3 linked regions of the Homo sapiens genome follow. The protein of the gene in region 3 purifies or fractionates together with the protein of the main gene of each other region. This does not show direct contact. Each region holds a gene or a part of one and is shown on either strand. Other genes may lie near its edges. The genes, in order: ZYG11A, KRABD3 and ZNF738.

Region 1 (3,645 bases), on a different chromosome or scaffold from region 3:
CCTAGTGGATGTGAAATAGTATCTGTTGTGCTTTTAATTTGCATTTCTTTAATGACTTATGGTGTTGGTATTTACCTGGTATGCCTCCCTATACTGAATTCCTTGTGGTCACAGGTGTCTGATTACCTTACGTGCCTGTTACATAACATGGAATCTCACCATAGAAGATGTGTAGTAGGCCAGGTGCAGTGCCTGTAGTCCCAGCTACTTGGGAGGCTGAGGCAAGGGAATCGCTTGAACTTGGGAAGCGGAGGTTGCAGTGAGCCCCCACTGCACTCCAGCCTGGGTGACAGAGCAAGACTCCATCTCAAAAAAAAAAAAAAAAAAAAAAATATGTGTAGTAAATGAAAAATAGGACAACCCATTCGTTTTACAGATGAGGAAAATGAGGCCCAGAGAGGTAAGTGACTTGTCAAATATTATCTACTAATTTGGTTAAAAATAATATTAGTAGTGCTACTTGTATATTGTATATCCTGTACTTATCTACCTATTTTATTTTGTTCTTCCTTTCTGTGAGCAAGGTTACTGTAGATAAAATTTTGGGCTCTACAGCCAAACTGGGGTTGACTCCTGATTCTGATGGTGACCTTGGATAAATTACTTAACCTATTCAAGTTTCAGTTTCCTCAGCTACATAGTAGTAGTAACAATAATTCCTTTATAGTATTAATGCAAAGAATACATGAGATAATAATCTTATTAAAGGAGTTTAGAACAATGCTAGCACAGAGCAGTAAATGTTGTCATTATTGTTATTATTAACATCTGTCTTAATTCTTTGCCACATTTTATCCTGGAAAGACATGAGATCTAGTTGTCATTACAAGTTGGTTCTGGTTCTTTCATAGGCAAGCTGACTGACAGAACAGCCAGCATTTTCCGAGGCAACCAAATGAAACTGAAGCTGGTCAATATCCAAAAAGCTAAAATCTCTACAGCTGCATTCATAAAAGCCTTCTGCCGTCATAAGCTCATTGAACTGAATGCTACTGCAGTGCACGCTGACCTCCCAGTTCCAGACATCATAAGTGGACTCTGCAGCAATAGGTGGATCCAGCAAAACCTCCAGTGTCTCCTGTTAGACTCGACAAGCATCCCTCAAAATTCAAGATTACTGTTCTTTAGTCAGCTCACTGGTCTTCGCATTTTAAGTGTTTTTAATGTTTGTTTTCATACTGAAGACCTGGCTAATGTTTCTCAGTTACCAAGACTGGAAAGCTTAGATATCTCTAATACTCTAGTCACTGATATTTCTGCACTGCTTACCTGTAAGGATCGATTGAAGTCTCTCACAATGCACTATCTGAAATGCCTGGCCATGACCAAATCACAAATTCTTGCAGTCATTAGAGAACTTAAATGTCTGCTTCACCTTGATATTTCTGATCACAGGCAACTCAAATCAGACCTAGCTTTTCATTTGCTACAGCAGAAGGATATCCTGCCCAATGTTGTGTCATTGGATATTTCTGGGGGCAATTGCATCACTGATGAAGCTGTAGAACTGTTTATACGACTGCGGCCTGCCATGCAATTTGTGGGACTATTGGCCACGGATGCTGGCTCTTCTGACTTCTTTACTACAAAGCAAGGCTTGAGGGTTTGTTCTTATCTGAATAAGTTTTGTTTCATTTGTTTAGAACATTATTAAACTCGTGCTATAGACCAGACTTTTTACTAGGTATTAGGGTTACAGAGACAGATAAAAAAATCCTTAAAGAGCTTTTTTAATAATTAATGATTATTATGTACCTACTATGTGGAAGGTTGTGAGAATATTATTATTATTTTTTGAGATGGAGTAGTTTTGTATTTTTAATAGAGATTGGGTTTCTTCATGTTGGTCAGGCTGGTCTCGAACGCCTGACCTCAGGTGATCTGCTTGCCTCGGCTTCCCAAAGTGCTGGGATCATAGGCATGAGCCACTGTGCCTGGCCACACGTGAGAATATAATATTAAGATACAGGCTGGGCATGGTGGCTCACACCTGTAATCCCAGCACTTTGGGAGGCCAAGGCGGGCAGATCACTTGAGGTCAGGAGTCCGAGACCAGCCTGGCCAACATGGTGAAACCTGGTCTCTACTAAAAATACAAAAATTAGCCGGTGTGTTGGCGGGCGCCTGTAGTCCCAGCTACTTGGGAGGCTGAGGCAGGAGAATCACTTGAACCTGGGAGGTGGAGGTTGCACCACTGCACTCCAGCCTGGCCAAAAGCGAAACGCAGTCTCAAAAAAAAAAGAAGATATAGTGGGTTCAAGTGATTCTCCTGCCTCGGCTTCCCGAGTAGCTGGGACTACAGGCACGTGCCACCATGCCCAGCTAGTTTTTTATTTTTAGTAGAGACGGGGTTTCACCATGTTGGCCGGGCTGGTCTCGAACTCCTAACCTCAGGTGATCCGCCTGCCTCGGCCTCCCAAAGTGCTGGGATTATAGGCATGAACCACTGCGCCCGGCCCGATTATTATTATTATTTTTTTTTGGAGACTGAGTTGTGCTCTTGTTGCCCAGGGTGGAGTGCAATGGCGCAATCTCGGCTCACTGCAACCTTCGCCTCCCGGGTTCAAGCGATTCTCCTGCCTCAGCTTCCCGAATAGCTGGGATTACAGGTGTGCACCACCACACCTGGCTAATTTTTTGTATTTTTAGTAGAGGCAGAGTTTCACTATGTTGGTCAGGCTGGTCTCGAACTCCCAGACCTCAGGTGATCCACCTGCCTTGGGCTCCCAAAGTGCTGGGATTACAGGCATGAGCCACCATGCTTGGCCCAGAGCTGTTGTTTTAAAGTAACTCTTTCTTTATAATAATACCTCCTTAGTTCTTCCTAGGGGAAGAGAATAAAGTGATTTGTATACTCATTAGTTGTGTTAACATTTTATTCTTTTGATTTGAAGTTAGCAATTGTTGTATTTTAATTAATTAATTAATTAATTTTTTATTGAGACAGAGTCACTCTGTTGTTCAGGATGGAGTGCAGTGGCACAATCTTGGCTCACTGCAACCTCTGCTGTGAGCTGAGATCCCCAAATTTTTTTTGGGACAGTCGAGTCCTGCTCTGTCGCCCAGGCTGGAGTGCAGTGGTCCGATCTTGGCTCACCACCAAGGATTATCTCTTCCCCCCTTGGATAAACTTGGCATCTTTGTTGAAAATCGGGTGTCCGTATATGTGTGAGTCTGTTACTGGGCTCTTTATTTTTTATTTTTTTTGAGACGGAGTCTTGCTCTGTCGCCCAGGCTGGAGTGCAGTGACACGATCTCTGCTCACTGCAATCTCCGCCTCCCGGGTTCACGCCATTCTCCTGCCTCAGGCTCCAGAGTAGCTGGGACTATAGGCACCCACCACCACGCCTGGCTAATTTTTTGTATTTTTAGTAGAGATGGTGTTTCACCGTGTTAGCCAGGATAGTCTCGATCTCCTGACCTCGTGATCTGCCTGCCTCATCCTTCCAAAGTGCTAGGATTACAGGTGTGAGCCACCACGCCCAGCTGGGCTCTTTATTTTTATCTGTTTGTGTATTGCCTTTTTTTTTTTTTTTTTTTTTTTTTTTTGAGACAGAGTCTCGGTCTGTCACCCAGGCTGGAGTGCAGTGGTGTGATCTCGGCTCACTGCAACCTCTGCCTCCCGGGTTCAAGTGATTCTCCTGG
Region 2 (3,645 bases), on a different chromosome or scaffold from region 3:
TCATCCTAGCCTCAGTTTCCTCACCTATTCTCTAAAGTCCCCTCAAGCCCCAAACTTTGATCCTTCACTTCTCAATTTCCACCTCTAAAAGGTGTGTCTGCTTTTATGAAAATCCCAACTGCTTCTGTGATAAAACACTGAAAGGAAATATGCAACCTGAAGTGCATTACAGGTGAGACTTCCTACCCATCACTCAAACACTGACCCTGGAAGGCTGTTTTCCCCAAGCTGGGGCTCTGGGTCCTGGCCCGTGCAGAGGGAATGGGGGAAGCCACCAGTTCACCTGCAACTCTGGGTCTTCCATGTCCAAGCTCCAGGCCTCTGGATGCTTCACTAACCCTGGGCCTTTTCTCCAGCTGAGAAACCGGGCAGGGATCCTGAGCTGTACCTATAGAAAGAGCACAGAGACCTTGGGGCAGGGAGACGATCGTTTGGCCAGAGCCATTCTGACATACCCTAAAACAATATCAAACTCTCAACTTTTAAACAATGATTAAATGAGATAGAAGACGGAAACTTGGCCCATGAGGGAGCCTAATTCTGGTGGCAGGGCCCGCCGCGGTGCGTGTGTGTGTGGTGTTCCTGCCCTGTATGCAGGGGGCTCCGGCAGGAGGAGGCGGCTGGGGAGGCAGCTGGGAAAAAGGACTCTCATCTGCGGGTCCTGCCCCAGTGAGACTTCCAAGGGCGTGCTGGGGCATCCTGTGGTCCACACCCAGCCCACTCTGCCATTTTCCACTAGGCCCACTGCGGAGTGAAGAATGTGGTGCAGCCTGGGTCTACACAGACCAGGGCCAATGCCTGTAAATGGAGCCAGCTGCAGGAGTTGGGGAGAGCTCCCTCCCCTGACCATTTCTGGCCTCTTCCTCCTTCTCCCCTGCTTCTCCCTCCTTCTACCACTGCTTCTCCCTCCTCGTCCTCGTCCTCCAGCACTCCTGAGGGGGCCAGGACAGCAGGTACTCTCTAAACTCTCTTTTCTCCCAGGCAACTGGGACCTGTCTCCTGTCCCATCTGCTTTTTCTGCTAGGAGCAAACAGTGGGTCACAGTGAGATTGAGAAGCAAGGTGGCCTGGGGCAATAGGCAGCATTCTAGCTTTCCTAATGGGACACTCTCCAAGAAGTACCCCCAGCTGGGGAAATCTCACTTTTGAGACTTTTGTTATTGATTGCCAAGTTTTAAAAGCATACGCTATTATTGTATAAATACATCCACATCTGTCTACATGCACACGTGTATATTAGCAAGCGCAAACACCGTGTACGTGGCATCAAGTGAGTGGCTCAGACCTCCCTGCAGCTGCTCACCAGCACCCCCAGCAGCCCCGCCCTCCTTCTCGGACACAGCTCACCTTACAGGGAACTAAAGCACGGCCAATGTGCAGGACTCCCTGGCAAGAGCCAGGCAAAGCGACAGGCAGGACTCAAAGGATCCAGTCTGGACTCCTGGTCCTCTGGGGAACGCATGGGCGCCCCCTCAGGAGACCCCAGGCTCACCTGCACCGAGGCCGCTGCAGTACCTGGGCTCTGTTCTCCTGGGGTCTTCACCAGGGCTGCCGCCACTGCTGCCAGCAGGGGTCCCACCAGGACATGGGGACAGAGGGACAGGAGGCTTACAGCTGGGAAGGCGGTCCCTCTCTAACGTCACAAACAAAGCTGGCATCAGAGTGGTGACTGGCGCCCTGGCACACATCCCGCTATCCTCCCTCTCCGCACAGGCTCACCCTGGGGGAGCGGCTTCCAGAGATCAGGCTCTGGCCTCGGGTCTTCTCCTTCAGAGCCGCTGAAGCTCGAGCTGGAGCCGGGGCTGGGGCTGGGGCTGGGGCCTCCCACGCAGGCGAAGCGCAAGGGCCTTACAGGCAAGATCCCCCTCAGGGCGCTCTCCAGGCAGTGCAGCGGGGAGGGCTTGGGGGCAGACCCTGGGCAGGGGACCAGAGAGTGCTCTGTCATCAGCCTGAAGAGAGCCAGGTCTCTGCCTTAGTGTCTGGGCACACAGAACCGGTCCCCTTTTCAGCTCAGCCCACGATCAGCATGCGTTCTAGTGGACCCTAAATGGCTGCCTCTCTTGCCAGAGAAAGAGGACAAAAGTGAAGCCAGAGCCTGGCCAGGACCCCAGCAGCTTTGGAAAGTCTGCTGGGGAACTTTCTGGAAGTCTCCAGTCCTTGGAAGCCATTAGCAGTCAGGTTCTAGCCAGGCCTAGGTCTCACAGGCCAGGCGGCTTCTCCCACCAGGCAGGTGCCATCCCTGCACCCCAGTATCTCACAGGGGCCAGCAGCCCAAGGGTGGGGCTCAGTTAGGGCCCATCCTCGTCTGATGGGAGGGTCAGCAAAACCGCATTTATTCAGCAAAGGCATCCCAGCAGGCCCTGCAGCAGATCTAGGAAGGAATTCTGCTGGAAGTTAAACCAAGCAGCAGCAGTGGACGGCGGGAGCCCCCTCAAGAAGCTTCTCCACTGGAGAAACCCAATGGATGGACACAAACAATGATCTTCCCGACCCCGCTCCTTGTCAGCACTTTGTGACACTTTATCTTCTTGTTTAGCGAACCTCAGTTTCTGTTTGGCACCAGCTTCTGTCCTCTGGGGAAAGGATGAGAGATGGGGAAGAAACAGAGGGACAGAGAGGGAAGTCTATTTCCTTGTCAAACACTTTAACTGAAGTGGGGCTGTCAGTACCGAGGGCAGGTGCCAGCTCACCCTCTGGGAGCCACCTCCACACTCCTGGCCTGGTGGCCCCAGGGTCTTTGAACCCCCGCTGGTGGCAGGCGGGGACGCAGCTGGAGGTGAACACCTGTGGGCTGACCAGATGGAGGCTCCGGGTGGGCGCTTCTCCCCTACCCTGCCCGAGACGGGCTGACTCGCAGGCCTCAGCCCTCAGTCCTGTTTTAATGAGAAATCAGAAGGCCTGTCAGCCCCACGGGGCCTCGTGCTGCCACAGAAGAAGGGACAGGGAACAGTTTCTGCCATTGCTGGGCTCTCAGGCACACCAGCATCAGGTGTGGGAAACACCCATCTGTCATGTTCCAGGGAGCGCCTGAACCCTCCAGAACATCTCTATTCCCAGACCCAGCTGCGTGGACCCCTGGGCTTGGAGACTGGTGCCCAGACACCAAGGCTCGTGGGGCTGGCACGGCCGGGACAAGGACACCCAGCCACAAGGAGCCAGCTCCAGCTGGGATGGTGGAACCGCAGACAGTGGCACTAAGGTGCCAGCAGGTCTACACGTGTGTGCTGCAGACTATCTGGCTTTCTGGCCTCCAACAAGGCTCTGCCCAGGTCTGTTTCCAGAGCACCATGTTGGCTCAGGAGCAGATCTGAGCCCACAGGTGCAGCGCCTAGGGCATCCTCAGAGCAGCCCTGTCTACACCCAGGGCCCCGGCAGCCACTATTACCTTCCTTGTCTGCTGTCCAGTTCCTGGGCTCTGCTCTCCTCGGTCCCCTGTCTGCTGCTGAGGAGCAGGGCCAGGCAGGCCGCAGCACAGGCACAGGTATCTCCTTGAGACAATTCTCCAGACCCTGCAGTGGGGAGCTTCCTGGTGGGCTTCCTGTGAAGATCAAACATTCACAGATGAGGGGGACTGTAGCTCAATCTCTGCAAACTGCAGAAGCCCCCTGTCTTCTGCTGTGTCCAGGGAAGGGGGGTCACAGGGGTG
Region 3 (4,250 bases):
GCTCTTTCTATGGCCACTATCTGTTCCAACCTCAGAACTGAAGATAGATGTTAGTAGGGAGAGGCCCTTCCTTCCCCTCTGGCCCTTCACACCATTGACATCAGAGCTGCCATGTGTGGCTCCTGGGTGCCTGGAATGTGCTTGGTCTGAACCGCGATATGCTAGAAAGGTAAAACACAGAGTTATTTTCAAAAATTTAGTTGCAAATATTTATATACTTCATTAATAATTACATATTCCTCACACATTAAAATGATATTTTGTATATATTAGGTTAATTACATTGTTACAATCAATTCAACCTGTTCCTTGTTATTGTTGTTGTTGTTGTTGCTGTTGTTGCAGTCTGTCACTAGGCTGGAGTGCAGTGGCGCAATCTCGGCTCACTGCAACCTCTGCCTCCCGGGTTCAAGCGATTCTCCTGCCTCAGCCTCCCCAGTAGCTGGGATTACAGGCATGCGCCACCACGCCTGGCTAATTTTTATATTTTTTTCAGTAGAGACAGGGTTTAGCCATATTGCCAGGAGGGTCTCAATCACTTGATCTCGTGATCCACCAGCCTCGGCCTCCCAAAGTGCTGGGATTACAGGCGTGAGCCACTGCGCGTGGCCTCTTGTTTCTTTATATTTTTCACCCCCCAAAACGGAGTCTCGCTCTGTCCGCCCAGGCTGGAGTGCAGTGGCGCGATCTCTGCTCACTGCAACCTCCTCCGCCTCCCGGGTTCAAGCAATTCTCCTGCCTCAGCCTCCTGCGTAGCTGGGATTACAGATGTCCACCACCACGCCCGGCTAATTTTTGTATTTTTAGTAGAGACGTGGTTTCACCATGTTAGCCAGGCTGGTCTCAAACTCCTGACCTCTTGATCTGCCCGCCTTGTACTCCTAAAGTCCTAGGATTACAGGCGTGAGCCACCATGCCTGGCCCCTTGTTTCTTTTTAATTTTCTAGTTTGGCTACCAGAAAATTCAAAATTCACGTGGCTCACATTTTATTTCAGAGGATTACCTCCTTTTTAAAATCTCAGGCTGCCTGCTCAAAGGACCGTAAGCCAGGAAAGTAAAAAAACCCTGAAATTTTAAAACATTTGTTATTATATCCTTTTCATTTATGTATAGCCATATGATATAGTATTTACAAATGCATATGACCTTATACGCAAGGTTGAATGCAAATACCCTTTGGGGTGGGCCTATCTCAGCTCAAGGAGGAAGCCCTGCCTGAAAAGGCTGCAGCCTAGGCGGTCACTCTTTCTTCATTCAGCCCAGCATCTAATTACATCTTCTGTCAGTCAGGGCCTGAGAGGGTGGGGTTTTAAACGTTATCCAATCAGCGACGCTGGGCTGGGAACTGTCCAATCAGGCACGCAGCTTGAGCGGAGAGGACGGCTTCCGGGATGTGGCGGGATTTGTCCGCTTCTTTGTCTTTGGCTGCCGCTGGAACTCCGGGTCTCGTCTTCACTGCTCTGTGTCCTCTGCTCCTAGAGGCCCAGCCTCTGGTCCTGTGACCTGCAGGTATTGGGAATCCACAGCTAAGACGCCGGGACACCCTGGAAGCCTAGAAATGGTGAGAGTGCGGGGTCCAACATCCCGAGAGAGGGGAAGGGCTGGTTGGAACCGGTGGGAAGTGGCTGTGGCGAGACTCAGGCCTCCCCGCAGTCAGCTCTACAATCTGCGCCCCGAGTTCTCCTTGCCCAGCTCGGCCTCAGTCGCCTTCAGCCATAAGATGGCGGTTGCGCCGACAGCCCGGCCCCCGGGCGTCCTGTCTCTTCCCTGCATAGTGACTGTGCCCTTGCCTGGAGCCCTCTCTGGGGAATCTCTGCACCCGCAGCGCCGCTTCTCTACCGGATTGTGCAGGGACCGTGGGAGGGTCGTCAGGGGAGAATCCTGACTTGGGGTGCGGGTTCATGAATGGGAAGAGGTTTGTTCCGTGGGGTTCCCAGTTCCTATTATCTCCTATTAAAAGTTAATGGGAGTCACTGCAAAAATATTAAAAGAATTTAATCAAAGAGTGGTTCTAGGCTGGGCGCGGTGGCTCACGCCTGTAATCCCAGCACTTTGGAAGGCCGAGGTGGGCGGATCAGAGGTCAGGAGATCAAGACCATCCTGGCTAACACGGTGAAACCCCGTCTCTACTAAAAATACAAAAAATGAGCCGGGCGTGGTGGCGGGCGCCTGTAGTCCCAGCTACTCAGGAGGCTGAGGCAGGAGAATGGCGTGAACCCAGGAGGCAGAGCTTGCAGTGAGCCGAGATCGTGCCACTGCACTCCAGCCTGGGCGACAGAGCGAGACTCTTGTCTCAAAAAAAAAATTAACTTATTAAATAATTTAATCAAAAAGTGGTTCTAGAATTGTAGAGCACCAAGCTGTGGTTTTTAGTTTGTGGTCTATGGGAGAGGCTTGAAAGAAAGTCTTTTGTAAAATGCATGATGAAGAAAACCAAATTTAGTAATTGGTTAGGTACAGTTACGTGGTTTTTTAATTTGTACATTAAAGGTGAAAATTTCCTGGTTATGTAATCGGAGCTCAATTGGCAGTTTATAGTAGGTGAAGCCTCAATTTTGTTTCTCTGAATTTAGTAATTAAAAATAATGCGCCTGAGTTAGATTTTTTAAATTGAAGTAGGAACCCAGGGACTAGAGAAACCTCAGTCTAATTGCCTGCCACTTAATTATTTTCACACTCCACAGGGAACTGATTTTCTGCTGCATTTTTCACCTGGGTCCCAATCAGGGTCTTAAGTCTAACCCCCATCCCTCATTACTCCAACCTCATTCTTGCTTGCAGTAAGATACTAAATTTCCAATTTCTTCTGGGGTTCCCAAATGCCAGCTTTTCCTCCCTAATTCACATTATCACGTATTTGTGTTTTTTTGTTTGTTTTGTTTTGTTTTTGAGATGGAGTCTCGCTCTGTCTCCCAGGCTGGAGTGCAATGGCGCGATCTCGGCTCACCTCAACCTCCGCCTCCCGGTTTTAAACAATTCTCCCACTTCAGCCTCCTTAGTAGCTGGGATTACAGGTGCGCGCCATCATACCTGGCTAATTTTTGTGTTTTTGTAAAGACGGGGGTTTCACCATGCTGGCCAGGCTGGTCTCGAACTCCTGACCTCAGGTGATCCGCCCGCATCAGCTTGCCAAAGTGCTGGAATTACAGGCGTGAGCCACCGGGCCTGGCCACTTATTTTGTAGTGTACTTTTTTATACCGTATTTTAATTAATTATTTTTTGGCAAGGCATTAAATGGTGCTTTTTTCTTTTCTTTTTTTTTTGAGACGGAGTTTCACTCTTGTTGCAAAGGCACATTCTCGGCTCACCACAACCTCCGCCTCCGGGTTCACGAGGTTCTCATGCCTCAGCCTCCCAAGTAGCTGGGTTTACAGGCATGCACCACCACGCCCAGCTGATTTTGTATTTTTAGAAGAGATAGGGTTTCTCCATGTTGGTCAGGCTGGTCATGAACTCCCGACCTCAGGTGATCCGCCCGCCTTGGCCTCCCGAAGTGCTGGGATTACAGGCGTGAGCCACTGCGCCCTGCATAAATGGTGTTTTGGGGGTTTTTTTGTTTGTTTTTTGTTTTGAGACGGAGTTTTGCTCTTGTTGCCCAGGCTGGAGTACAGTGGCATGGTCTCGGCTCACCGCAACTTCTGCCTCCCGGGTTCAGGCGATTCTCCTGCCTCAGCCTCCGAGTAGCTGGGATTACAGGCATGTGCCAGCCACCACGCCCGGCTAATTTTTTATTTTTAGTAGAGACAGGGTTTCTCTATGTTGGTCAGGCTGGTCTCGAACTCCCGACCTCAGGTGATCCGCCCGCCTCGGCCTCCCAAAGTGTGGGGATTACAGGCGTGAGCCACCACACCCAGACCAATGGTACTTTTAAGAAGGTTTGTTATCTGTTTGTAAATATTTTCCATGAAAAGAAAGCAAATAATAATCCCCTGACACTGTGTTGCAAAAAATCTCTGTGTGTCTTTTCCTTTTATCTTTCTAGGCACAGAGATGTTATCGGAATTTTTTTGGGTCAGAGTTCTGCTTTGGAAAATTTATGGGGTGATGTGTCCTCAGCCACCGTTTAGTTTTTTCCCGGTCCTGGGTTTCAGTATTATCTGGGGATAAACCGAGATATCTGCCATGGTTATGTCAGCTAGAGTGTCTAGTGGATATCAGCTTCTGGTTTATTTTCTCCCATAGGACGACCTGAGGTATGGAGTGTATCCTGTCAAGGGGGCAAGTGGATACCCTGGGGCTGAGAGGAAT

Evidence for each region.
Region 1: the proteins of ZNF738 (region 3) and ZYG11A purify together in Homo sapiens (affinity purification with mass spectrometry; one large-scale study listed by BioGRID and IntAct). This does not show direct contact.
Region 2: the proteins of ZNF738 (region 3) and KRABD3 purify together in Homo sapiens (affinity purification with mass spectrometry; one large-scale study listed by BioGRID and IntAct). This does not show direct contact.

What each region holds. Positions count from the first base shown.
Region 1 is NC_000001.11:52,856,147-52,859,791, forward strand, and holds part of ZYG11A (protein zyg-11 homolog A), read left to right. Parts: intron 1-851; coding exon 852-1,603; intron 1,604-3,645. UniProt on the Homo sapiens protein: Probably acts as a target recruitment subunit in an E3 ubiquitin ligase complex ZYGA-CUL2-elongin BC.
Region 2 is NC_000007.14:149,728,415-149,732,059, reverse strand, and holds part of KRABD3 (protein KRBA1), read right to left. Parts: intron 3,538-3,645; coding exon 3,385-3,537; intron 2,873-3,384; coding exon 2,690-2,872; intron 2,573-2,689; coding exon of another isoform or gene 2,532-2,572; exon of another isoform or gene 2,309-2,531; intron 1,914-2,308; coding exon 1,719-1,913; intron 1,633-1,718; coding exon 1,492-1,632; exon of another isoform or gene 1,347-1,491; intron 389-1,346; coding exon 284-388; intron 1-283.
Region 3 is NC_000019.10:21,357,582-21,361,831, forward strand, and holds the start of ZNF738 (zinc finger protein 738), read left to right. Parts: upstream 1-1,418; 5' UTR 1,419-1,559; coding exon 1,560-1,562; intron 1,563-4,184; coding exon 4,185-4,250. UniProt on the Homo sapiens protein: May be involved in transcriptional regulation.